Linked DNA regions of Homo sapiens. The protein of the gene in region 1 purifies or fractionates together with the protein of each later gene. This does not show direct contact. Each region holds a gene or a part of one and is shown on either strand. Other genes may lie near its edges.

Region 1 (3,126 bases):
TTTCTTGAACTAAAATTTGAAGGAAAGGAAGTTTTTCCAGATGACCAAAGGTCATGCATGGCTGTTCCTCAAACTCACCTGCCATTGTGGTAGTGGGTGGCAGGCCACTTGATTCTGTACAAAGAATCAATGCACATTTGGGATTTTTTTAAAAAATTAAAACCCCTTAAAATGGTAAATATAAAATTATTTTTATCCACTTCTTTATAACCTCATTTCATGTGGTGTTCAGATCCCTGCGCTTCTGGCGTCTATCTAGTCTACTGAGGGTACCAAAGCCTCATATCAGAGGCATGTACACTTAGTTATTATTTCTGGGTTGTAGGGAGGAATATGTAAAGAGGTTAGAGAAAACAAACAAGAGAAGGAGGAAGAATTATGAGAAAAGAAAGAAAAGTTGGGGGCGGAAGATGAAATAGAAAGAAGAGGAAGAAAAGCCTTCTCAGTCCAGGAAATCTCTGTATTTCACATCTAGCTTCCTTGAAGGAGCTGGACATGAAGATTCATGAGCCCAGAGGGGAGGTACAGCACCAAGTCTTGATGTCAAAGAACCGGTGGGCTACACCCTCACGTATCTGCTTAGTCTTCACACCATAGACAATGGGGTTCAGCATTGGTGGCACTGCCACATAAAGATTGGCCAGCAAGATATGGACATGTTGAGGAATATTACGCCCAAAATGATGGGTCAATAAGGTAAAGAAGGATGGAACATAAAACATAAGGATGACACAGAGGTGGGAGCCACAAGTGCTGAGGGCCTTGTGCCGAGCATCCTGGGAGGGCAAACGAAACACTGCTCGGAGGATCAGTGAGTAAGACACAGCGATGAGGATAACATCCAAGATGACCATGACAATGGGCACTGAGAAGCCATACCAAATGTTAACAGTGATGTCAGCACAGGCTAAACGAGCCACTCCAATATGCTCACAGTAGGAGTGAGGAACAATGTTGGTTAGGCAGAAGGGCAGCCGCTTCAGCAAGAATATGACTGGGAAGATGATGCAGAAGCTTCGGGTGATGACGGCCAGAGCAATCCTCCCCACAACAGGCCATGTTAGCACTGTTGTATATCTCAGTGGGGCACAAATGGCCACAAAGCGATCAAAGGCCATGGCTAACAGGATAGCTGACTCCCCCACAAACATCATATGGACAAAGAAGCCTTGGGTGACACAGGCATCAAAAGCAATGTTATGTGCTTGAAGCCAAAAGATGGCTAGGGCCTTGGGCACAGTGGTGGTAGACAGCAGGATGTCCATGACGGCCAGCATTGAGAGGAAGAAATACATGGGCACATGAAGGTTACGTTCCATGACAATAACCACTATCAGGATGCTGTTTCCCAGGACTGCAGTGATGTAAATGAGGCAAAGAGGTATTGACAGCCAAATGTGATAAGCCTCCAACCCAGGGATGCCAGGAAGGACAAAAACTGCAGGATGGAAGATGGTAACATTGGTGTGACTCATGATGCACTTTATGGTCCTCTCTATAATGACTTAGAAGCTGATGAGTCTACTGAAAGTGATAGAAACAGAAAGCACTCCCGAATATGTATAAATATCATAAAAGACAGCATGGATTTCTAAATTGCTGGACTCTCCAGCAGCAAGTACTCCCAGAGAATGTTCACTTGGTATAGGAATGGCTTCTGGCCCATAGTGCTTCCTTTGCAGATAGAGCTTCTGTGGCAATAATGCTTCAAGTATGAACAGAAGTGGCAGCACCTTCCTGCAACCACCCTGCCCCCAGAGTTTGGCCTCACTCTCCCTTTCTGACCTCATTCTACTATTTCCACACAAGCAGCATTTTCCACCTACCTGTGTTGTACTTGTCCCTTTCCCCAAGATTTTGTTCTGCATTTACCTTTAATTTCCCTCCCCTTCTACTTCTGTTTAACAAAATTTTAACCTTAAAATAAGTCCTCAAGACATACCACTTTGTAATGGTCTGTGTTCATAGCAATATATCTCCTTCCTAAAAAACTATTAACTAAACTATATTTTAACTGGGTTATATTTAATCCTATTAAGTTTATCTGGCTATTGCCTTGAACATTTCACAGGACACTTGCACCTCTGGCCCCTTGTGCAAGGGAGTAGAGTATCAAGTGGGAATCCAGAGGAAGCCTAGAGGGGTACATTTCTCCACTCTGATCCAGATTCATATCTTCCCTAATGCAGTGAGCAATGGGGCAGCCAATGAAACTGAGACAGGCAATTTTCATCACCAGCTCCTCATGGACTTCTCATGCTCCTCCTCAAATATTTCTATACAGGAGCCTCTTGGTTATGTCTGGGCTTCCTTATCTGTAGAAGCCCCCCAGGAAAACGATTCTGAGCAAAAGAAATCAATCTATTGCCCACCTGTAAACTCTGCTGACTCCACTAATACTGCCCTTCTTCCCACCCCACTGTTCCCCAACGCTCAGAAGGAACCATGTTTCCCTGCTGCCAAGAAGGATTAAGTATAGAGCCCTTCTTGGCTTGCCTGCCACTCAGGTAATATTTGTTTCATTCTGAAGTTCTGAACTATCTGTCAGCTATTAGGACTAGGGAAAGAGTGTATGATTAAGAATCTAGAAGGGAACATGAAGAAAAGGGACCACAGAGACAGTAAAGAGAGAATCAGAACTATAAAGGTACCAAATAAACACTAGACTGATCTTCTGATAATGGTATTCAGAGGGCCCCAAAGAAGAGATGCAAAGGAATCAAATCCTCAGTTTATTAGTCCATCCCTCTGCCTCTATGCAAATGAACTTTCTCAGAGCACAGTGGGCTGTGGGGAGGGAGCAATGGGACTCCAGATGGGTACAAGGAAGGGAATAGAGCCAGATCCAGACAAGTAAAGGCCGCAGGCAGGCTAATAATCTGACAGCATTCAAGTCAGTATATTTTAAATATTTGGGCCAGGCACAGTGTCTCATGCCTATAATCCCAGAAGTTTGGGAGGCCAAGATGGGAGGATCGCTTGAGGCCAGGTATTCAAGACCTGCCTAGGTAACATAACAAGACCCTGTCGCTACAAAACAATTTAAAAATTAGCCGGGAATGGTGGCACGCACCTGTAGTCCCAGCTACTTGGAGGCGGAGGCAGGAGGATCTCTTGAGCCCAGGA
Region 2 (3,654 bases), on another chromosome or scaffold:
GCCCTGTTTACCAGGCAGAGAGCCCTTACTCATCGGTAATACTCAGATATCTTGAGCTGCATGTAGCATAGTGCATGAGGGAGTGTATCAGTGTGTTCTTGTGTTGTTTTAAAGAAATACCTGAGACTGGGTAATTTATAAAGAGAGGAGGTTTAATTGGCTCACGGTTCTGCGGGCTGCACAGGAAACATGGCATCGGCATCTGCTTGGCTTCTGGGGAGGCCTCAGGGGGCTGTGGCTCATGGTGGAAGGCGGAGGAGAGCAGGTATCTCACATGGCAGAGCAGGAGCAAGAGGGAGAGAGTCAGGGGGAGGTGCCACACCCTTTTAAACGACCAGATCTCATGAGGACTCACTATCATGAAGACAGCACCAAGCCATGAAGTCACCATCATGAAGACAACATCCGCCCCTGTGATCCAGACACCTCCCACGAGGCCTCACCTCCAGCACTGGGGATTACAGTTCGACATGAGATTTGGGAGGGGACCACCACCCACACTCTGTCACCCGGCCTTGGCATTTAAGCTTCTGATGCATTTCAGGTGTGCGATGGGAGTCCTGACCATACCCACCACTCAGGACAGACAGTTCCAGCACATGGGCAACAACTCGTGTGTGGCTGGTGTGCGTCCTTATGCTGAGGAGGGGTGCGTGAGCTGGCACACTTGTGACGGTCGATTCTCAGGATCTCTTTCTTTTTTCTGTCCTTTCTCATGTCCCACCCTAGAGTCAGATGGAGTTCAGTATCTCCGCCCTATCCATCCAGGAGCCGAGCAACGGCACCGCCGCCAGCGAGCCCAGACCACTGTCCAAAGCTTCCCAGGGCTCCCAGGCCCTCAAGTCCTCCCAAGGCAGCAGGTCCTCCAGCCTGGACGCCCTGGGCCCCACCAGGAAGGAGGAGGAAGCGTCATTCTGGAAGATCAATGCTGAGCGGTCCCGAGGGGAGGGGCCTGAGGCCGAGTTCCAGTCGCTGACCCCTAGCCAGATCAAGTCCATGGAGAAGGGGGAAAAGGTCTTGCCTCCCTGCTACCGGCAGGAACCTGCCCCGAAGGACAGGGAGGCCAAGGTGGAAAGGCCCAGCACCCTCCGTCAGGAGCAGCGTCCTCTTCCCAACGTGAGCACCGAACGTGAGAGACCCCAGCCTGTCCAGGCCTTCAGCAGTGCACTGCACGAGGCTGCCCCCTCCCAGCTCGAGGGGAAGCTGCCATCTCCTGATGTCAGGCAGGACGATGGGGAAGACACCCTGTTCTCGGAACCCAAGTTTGCACAGGTGAGTGGCCTTTACCAGCGCGTCCTCAGATGGGATGGTGCCTTATTCCACGGGAACCGAGAGGGTCCCCCACAAAGCAGGCAGGCCACAGGTGCCCATGCTCTTTTTCTTCTCCTTCCCCTGCCTCTTCCTCAGAGGATGCCTAGGCTCAGGGTGCTGAGCCACCAACAAATATGCAACAAGACAAGTTTTGCGAGTCCATCTGGGTGCCCTAATTTGTTTACCAGTCAGGGTTCCGTGGCCCACTGCGCTTTCCCCAGTGCGCGGGCTGCTATCAGAAGAGGCCCCTGGAAGGCGCTGCGCCCAGGGCTGTCACAGCTCAAAGCTGTGTTGGGCCTTCTTTTTGGGAGCTGTCCATAGAGGCAATGGTCTGTTCTTTAGGACTGGTCTGGATTTGGGCCAGGGGAGCTGCCTGTTGGCAAAGCAGGCAGGCACACTTGAGAGGCCTCACTGGGTCTTGCCCCTCTGTGGGCCTCGCTGGGCTCCTGGCTGCCTTGCTGAGGAGTGAGCCCAGGATGCAGTTGCCTCCATGGTAGCCTCACCCATCCTCCTCTGGCCCTTGAGACTCCTTGGTTCTTGTGGGTCACTCTTTTTTTTTTTAATTTTTATTTTTTAAATTTTTTATTTCCATAGGTTTTGGGTGGTATTTGGTGACATAAGTTCTTTAGTGGTGATGTGTGAGATTTTGGTGCACCCATCACCCGAGCAGTGGACACTGAACCCAATTTGTAGTTTTTTATCCCTCACCCACCTCCCACTCTTTCCCCGAGTCCCCAAAGTCCATTGTGTCATTCTTATGCCTTTGCATCCTCATAGCTTAGCTCCCACTTATGAGTGAGAACATATGATGTTTGATTTTCCATTCCTGAGTTACTTCACTTAGAATAATAGTCTCCAATTACATCCAGGTCGCTGCAGATGCCATTAATTCATTCCTTTTTTGGCTGAGTAGTATTCCATCGTATATATATACCACAGTTTCTTTATCCACTCATTGATTGGTGGGCATTTGGGCTGGTTCCATATACTGAATTTTAAAAGTTTTTATTATGGTAAAATATACAAACATTTACCATTTTAACCATTTTACAGTATAAATTTGGTGGCATTTCAGTACATTCTCAATGCTGTGTAACCATCACTACCATCCATCTCCAGAACTCCTTTCATCCTGCAGAACTAAAGCTCTGGACCCGTTCAACACTAACTTCTCATTCATCCCTCCCCGCAAGCTCCTGGCAACCACCATTCCACTTTCTGTGTCTGTGAATTTGACTCCTCTAGGTACCTCATATAAGTAGCACCATATAGTATTTACCCTTTTGTGACTGACTTACTTTACTTAATGTGACGTCTTCAAGGCTCATTCATGTTGTAGCAAGTGTAGAATTGCCTTCTAAGGCTAATATTCCATCGTGTGGTTAGACCACATTTTGTGTATCCACTCATCCATCGACAGACACTTGGGTTGCTTCCACCTTCTGGCTATTGTTGTCTGTTAGGAATAGTGCTGCTGTGAACGTGTATGTACAAATAAGTCTTCCAGCCCCTGCTTTCCCTTCTCCTGGGTGCATACCCAGATGTAGAATTGCTGGATCACATGGTGGTTCTATTTCTACTTTTTTGAAGAACCTGCATACTGTTCGCCACAGCAGCTGCGTCATTTTACATTCCCATCAATGTGGGTTCGCGTTTCTCCACTCCCTTGCAACACTTGTTATTTTCTGTGTCTTTGCTGGTGCCATGCGAAGGGGTATGAGGTGGTGTCTCACCGTGGTTTAGACTTGCCTGTCCATGATCGTGAATGATGTTGAGCCTCATTTCATGTGCTTATTGGCCATCTGTGTATCTTCTTTGGAGAAATGTCCAATGGTCCCTTGCCCATTTTTAAATTTTTGGTTATTTTGTTGTTGAGTTGAGATCATCACTGATAACATTGAATGTCCCCCAGAGCAGGTTTCCAGTACTTCCACACCTCCCTCGGCAGATGGCTGCACGTGCTGTCCTCCCGAGGAGGGAGGATCCAGCGGTGCTAGTACCTTCTGCCCACCTCGGCTCCACATCAGTGCTCTAGCCTGTCCTCTTCGTGTTTCTGCACCTTCTTAAGCTAGTGCTTTCAGCCCTCTTGTTTCCTGCCTTCTCCGGTACCTGCCCATCTCTCCGTTCTGTTTTCTGTCTCACATCCTCCTGCCCATCAGCTCCTCCTTACAGACAGGCTCAGTTCCCTGCCTCCCTAACCAGCACTCTTTCTCTGAGACTCGGCACTGAGGGCTTCCTCTGAAAGAAGTATTTCCATAAAATAGGTGATAGTCCCCACTCTAAAGAGAAGCAGGAACGTGTTTCTGTGTGGGCAGTGGAGAGTAGGAGACAGCACATGAAATT
Region 3 (3,654 bases), on another chromosome or scaffold:
CACCCAGGCTTGAGTGCAGTGGTGCGATCACTGCTCACTGCAGGCTAGACCTCCAGGGCTCAAGTGATCCTGCCGCCTCAGCCTCCCAAGTAGCTGGGACCACAGGTGTGCACCACCACATCTGGCTAATTTTTTTTTTTTTTGGTAGATGGGGGTCTCACTATGTTGTCCAGGCTGATCTCTAACTCCTGGCTCAAGTGATTCTCCCATCCTGGCCTCCCAAAGTACGTAAATATGATATCATATATATCATATAATTGATGAACCAATATATCATATATGATGATGATCAGAATTGGTGAGCCAATATGTTACTAACTAAAGTTTACACTTCATCAAAATTGGTAATTTTTGTTCTTCAAAGGACACCAAGAACTTGAAAAGATAATTCACCAAGTGGAAGAACGACTTGCAAATCCTGTGTCTGGTGGGGCATCTTATCCAGAAGCAGCCTGAGTCTCAGTCCCCTCCATCACACTCCATCAGGGTGGGGGCTGAATTGGCAGCCAGGACTCCCAGGTATCCTGTCCCATCACTGTAGGAGGCAGTCTACCTCCTGGACCTCTCTCTGGGCAGTTGTGCACCTGCAATCCTGGATCTCACCCAGATCATGGGGTGACAACAGGGAGTGGCCATCCAGAGAGAAATCTGAGCCTGGTGTTTTGGGTTTGTGGGTGGGAGGTACTCTCAGGACACCCTCCCCCTCCATGGATTCAGACTTGGGTGGGCCCAGCAGAATGGCATGTGTGGTTCCCAGCTCCTTCATCCCCAGTGGGAGGGAGCCTGTCATCCCCTATGCATTTCAGATAAATGAACCAGGGTCTCAAGTTTACAGCCTTGTTCCCTGTTAAAGAGAGATTGCACTGGAAACTTGTTAAGAATGTCAAGGAAAAGTTTATTAAGCACAATTGCAGTGAGTCATGACAGCTGTAATAGGGGAGGGAGATTGAATTCAGCCTTGAATGCAGCAGGAATATTATTGGATTTATAGCCAATGTACAAGGTGAGGGAGAGAATGGAACTTGGTTGGGTCTCATAGGTGGGAGAAAAAGAACTTGATTGGATATTAAGGTAGGAGGAGTCTCTATAAACTACCTTAGATGGATTCTTGCTGAAACTGACTTCTGCAGGCCAGTGCCAAGCCCTAGTCAAAAAGAGGGCTCTGAGGAGCTTGACTCAAGTTTGGTGAAGGAAGGAGTACTTGAGACCTCTTCAGCCTAGTTTTTCTTTCTTTCTTTTTTTTTTTTTTTTTTTTTGAGATGGAGTCTTGCTCTGTCACCCAGGCTGGAGTGCAGTGGTGCGATCATGGCTCACTGCAACCTCTGCCTCCCAGGTTCAAGCAATTCTCTGCCTCAGCCTCCCAAGTAGCTGGGGTTACAGGTGCCCACCACCAGGCCTGACTAATTTTTTTTTGTATTTTTAGTAGAGACAAGGTTTCACCATCTTGGCCAGGGTGGTCTTGAACTCCTGACCTCATGAGCCACCGTGCCCAGCCTCTTCAGCCTAGTTTTTCCCAGGGCTCTGTATTAGTCTGTTTTCATGCTGCTAATAAAGACATACCCAAGACTGGGTAATTTATAAAGGAAAGAGATTTCATTGACAGGTCAGTATGGCTGGGGAGGCCTCAGGAAACTTACAAGTATGGTGGAAGGGAAGCAAACATGTCCTTCTTCACATGGCAGCAGCAAGGAGAAGTGCAGACTAAAGGTGGGGGAAAGGTGGGGGAAGCCCATTATAAAACCAGATCTCATGAGAACTCACTATTATGAGAACAACATGGAGGTAACCACCCCAATGATTAAATTATCTCCCACTTGCTCTCTCCCATGACATTCAGGGATTATGGGAACTACAAGAGGAGATTTGGGTGGGGACACAGCCAAACCATATCATTCCACCCCCAGCCCCTCCCAAATCTCATATCCTCACATTTTAAAACAATCATGCCCTCCCAACAGTCCCCCAAAGTCTTAAATCATTCCAGCATTAACTCAAAAGTACAAGTCCAAACTCATCTGAGACAAGGCAAGTCCCTTCTGCCTATGAGCCTGTAAAATCAAAAACAAGTTAGCTACTTCCTAGATACAGTCATTGGGTAAATATACCCATTCCAAATGGGAGAAATTGGCCAAAACAAAGGGGCTAGAGGCCCTATGCAAGTCCCAAATCCAGTAGGGCAGTAATTAAATCTTAAAGCTTTGACATAATCTCCTTGGCCAGGCGCGGTGGCTCACACCTGTAATCCCAGCACTTTGGGAGGCCGAGGCAAGCGGATCATGAGGTCAGGAGATCAAGACCATCCTGGCTAACATGGTGAAACCCTGTCTGTATTAAAAATACAAAAAATTAGGCATGGTGGCACGCGCCTGTAATCCCAGCTACTCGGGAGGCTGAGGCAGGAGAATTGCTTGATCCCAGAAGGCGGAGGTTCCAGTGAGCCGAGATCATGCCACTGCACTCCAGTCTGGGTGATAGAGCCAGACTCTGTCTCAAAAAAAAAAAAGAAAGAAAAAAAGAATCTCCTTTGACTCCACGTCTCACATCCAGGTCATGCTGATGCAAGAGGTGGGCTCCCTCAACCTTGGGCACCTCTGCCCCTGTGGCTTTGCAAGGTACAGCCCCCACTCCTGGCTGCTTTCACAGCTGGCACTGAGTGTCTGTGGCTTTTCCAGGTGCGTGGTGCAAACTGTCAGTGGATTGACCATTCTGGGGTTCTTGAGGACGGATGGTGGCCCTCTCCTCACAGCTCTACTAGGCAGTGCCACAGTGGGGACTCTCTGTGGGGGCTCCAGTTCCCACATTTCTCTTCTGCGCTGCCCTAGCAGAGGTTCTCCATGAGGGCTCCGCCCCTGTAGCACACCTCTGCCTGGACACCCAGGCGTTTTTGTACATCTTCTGAAATCTCGGCAGAGGTTCCCAAACCTCAATTCTTGTCTTCTGTGCACCCACAGGACCAACACCACATGGCAGCTGCTGTGGCTTGGGGCTTGCACCCTCCGAAGCCATGACCCGAATTGTACCTTGCCTCCTTTTAGCAATGGCTGGAGTGGCTGGGCACAGGGAACCAAGTCCCTAGGGTGCATACAGCAAGGGGCCCTGGACCAGGCCCAGGAAACCAACCATTTTTTCCTTTTAGGATTCTAGGCCTGTGATGGGAGGGGCTGCCATGAAGGTCTGTGATGTGTCCTGGAGACATTTTCTCCATTGTCTTGGTGATTAACATTTGGCTTCTCGTTACTCACAAATTTCTGTAGCTGGTTTGAATTTCTCCCCAGAAAATGGGTTTTTCTTTTCTTTTCTTTTTTTTTGAGACAGAGTTTCACTCTTGTTGCCCAGGCTGGAGTGCAATGGCGCAATCTTGGCTCACTACAACCTCCACCTCCCAGGATCAAGCGATTCTCCTGCCTCAGCCTCCCGAGTAGCTGGGATTACAGGCATGTGCCACCACGGCCAGCTAATTCTATATATTTAGTAGAGAAGGGGTTTCTCTATGTTGCTCAGGCTGCTCTCAAACTCCTGACCTCAGGTTATCCGCCTGCCTCAGCCTCCCAAGGTGCTGGATTACAGGCATGAGCCACCACGCCTGGCTGGGTTTTTTTTTCTGTTCCATTGTCAGGCTGCAATTTTTCCAAACTTTAATGTTCTGTCACCTCT

Evidence for each region.
Region 2: the proteins of OR52B2 (region 1) and C1orf198 purify together in Homo sapiens (affinity purification with mass spectrometry; one large-scale study listed by BioGRID and IntAct). This does not show direct contact.
Region 3: the proteins of OR52B2 (region 1) and ZNF627 purify together in Homo sapiens (affinity purification with mass spectrometry; one large-scale study listed by BioGRID and IntAct). This does not show direct contact.

Annotation. Positions count from the first base shown.
Region 1 is NC_000011.10:6,168,852-6,171,977, forward strand, and holds OR52B2 (olfactory receptor 52B2), read right to left. Parts: upstream 1,476-3,126; coding exon 504-1,475; downstream 1-503. UniProt on the Homo sapiens protein: Odorant receptor.
Region 2 is NC_000001.11:230,840,972-230,844,625, reverse strand, and holds part of C1orf198 (uncharacterized protein C1orf198), read left to right. Parts: intron 1-729; coding exon 730-1,272; intron 1,273-3,654.
Region 3 is NC_000019.10:11,603,846-11,607,499, forward strand, and holds part of ZNF627 (zinc finger protein 627), read left to right. Parts: intron 1-364; exon of another isoform or gene 365-519; intron 520-3,654. UniProt on the Homo sapiens protein: May be involved in transcriptional regulation.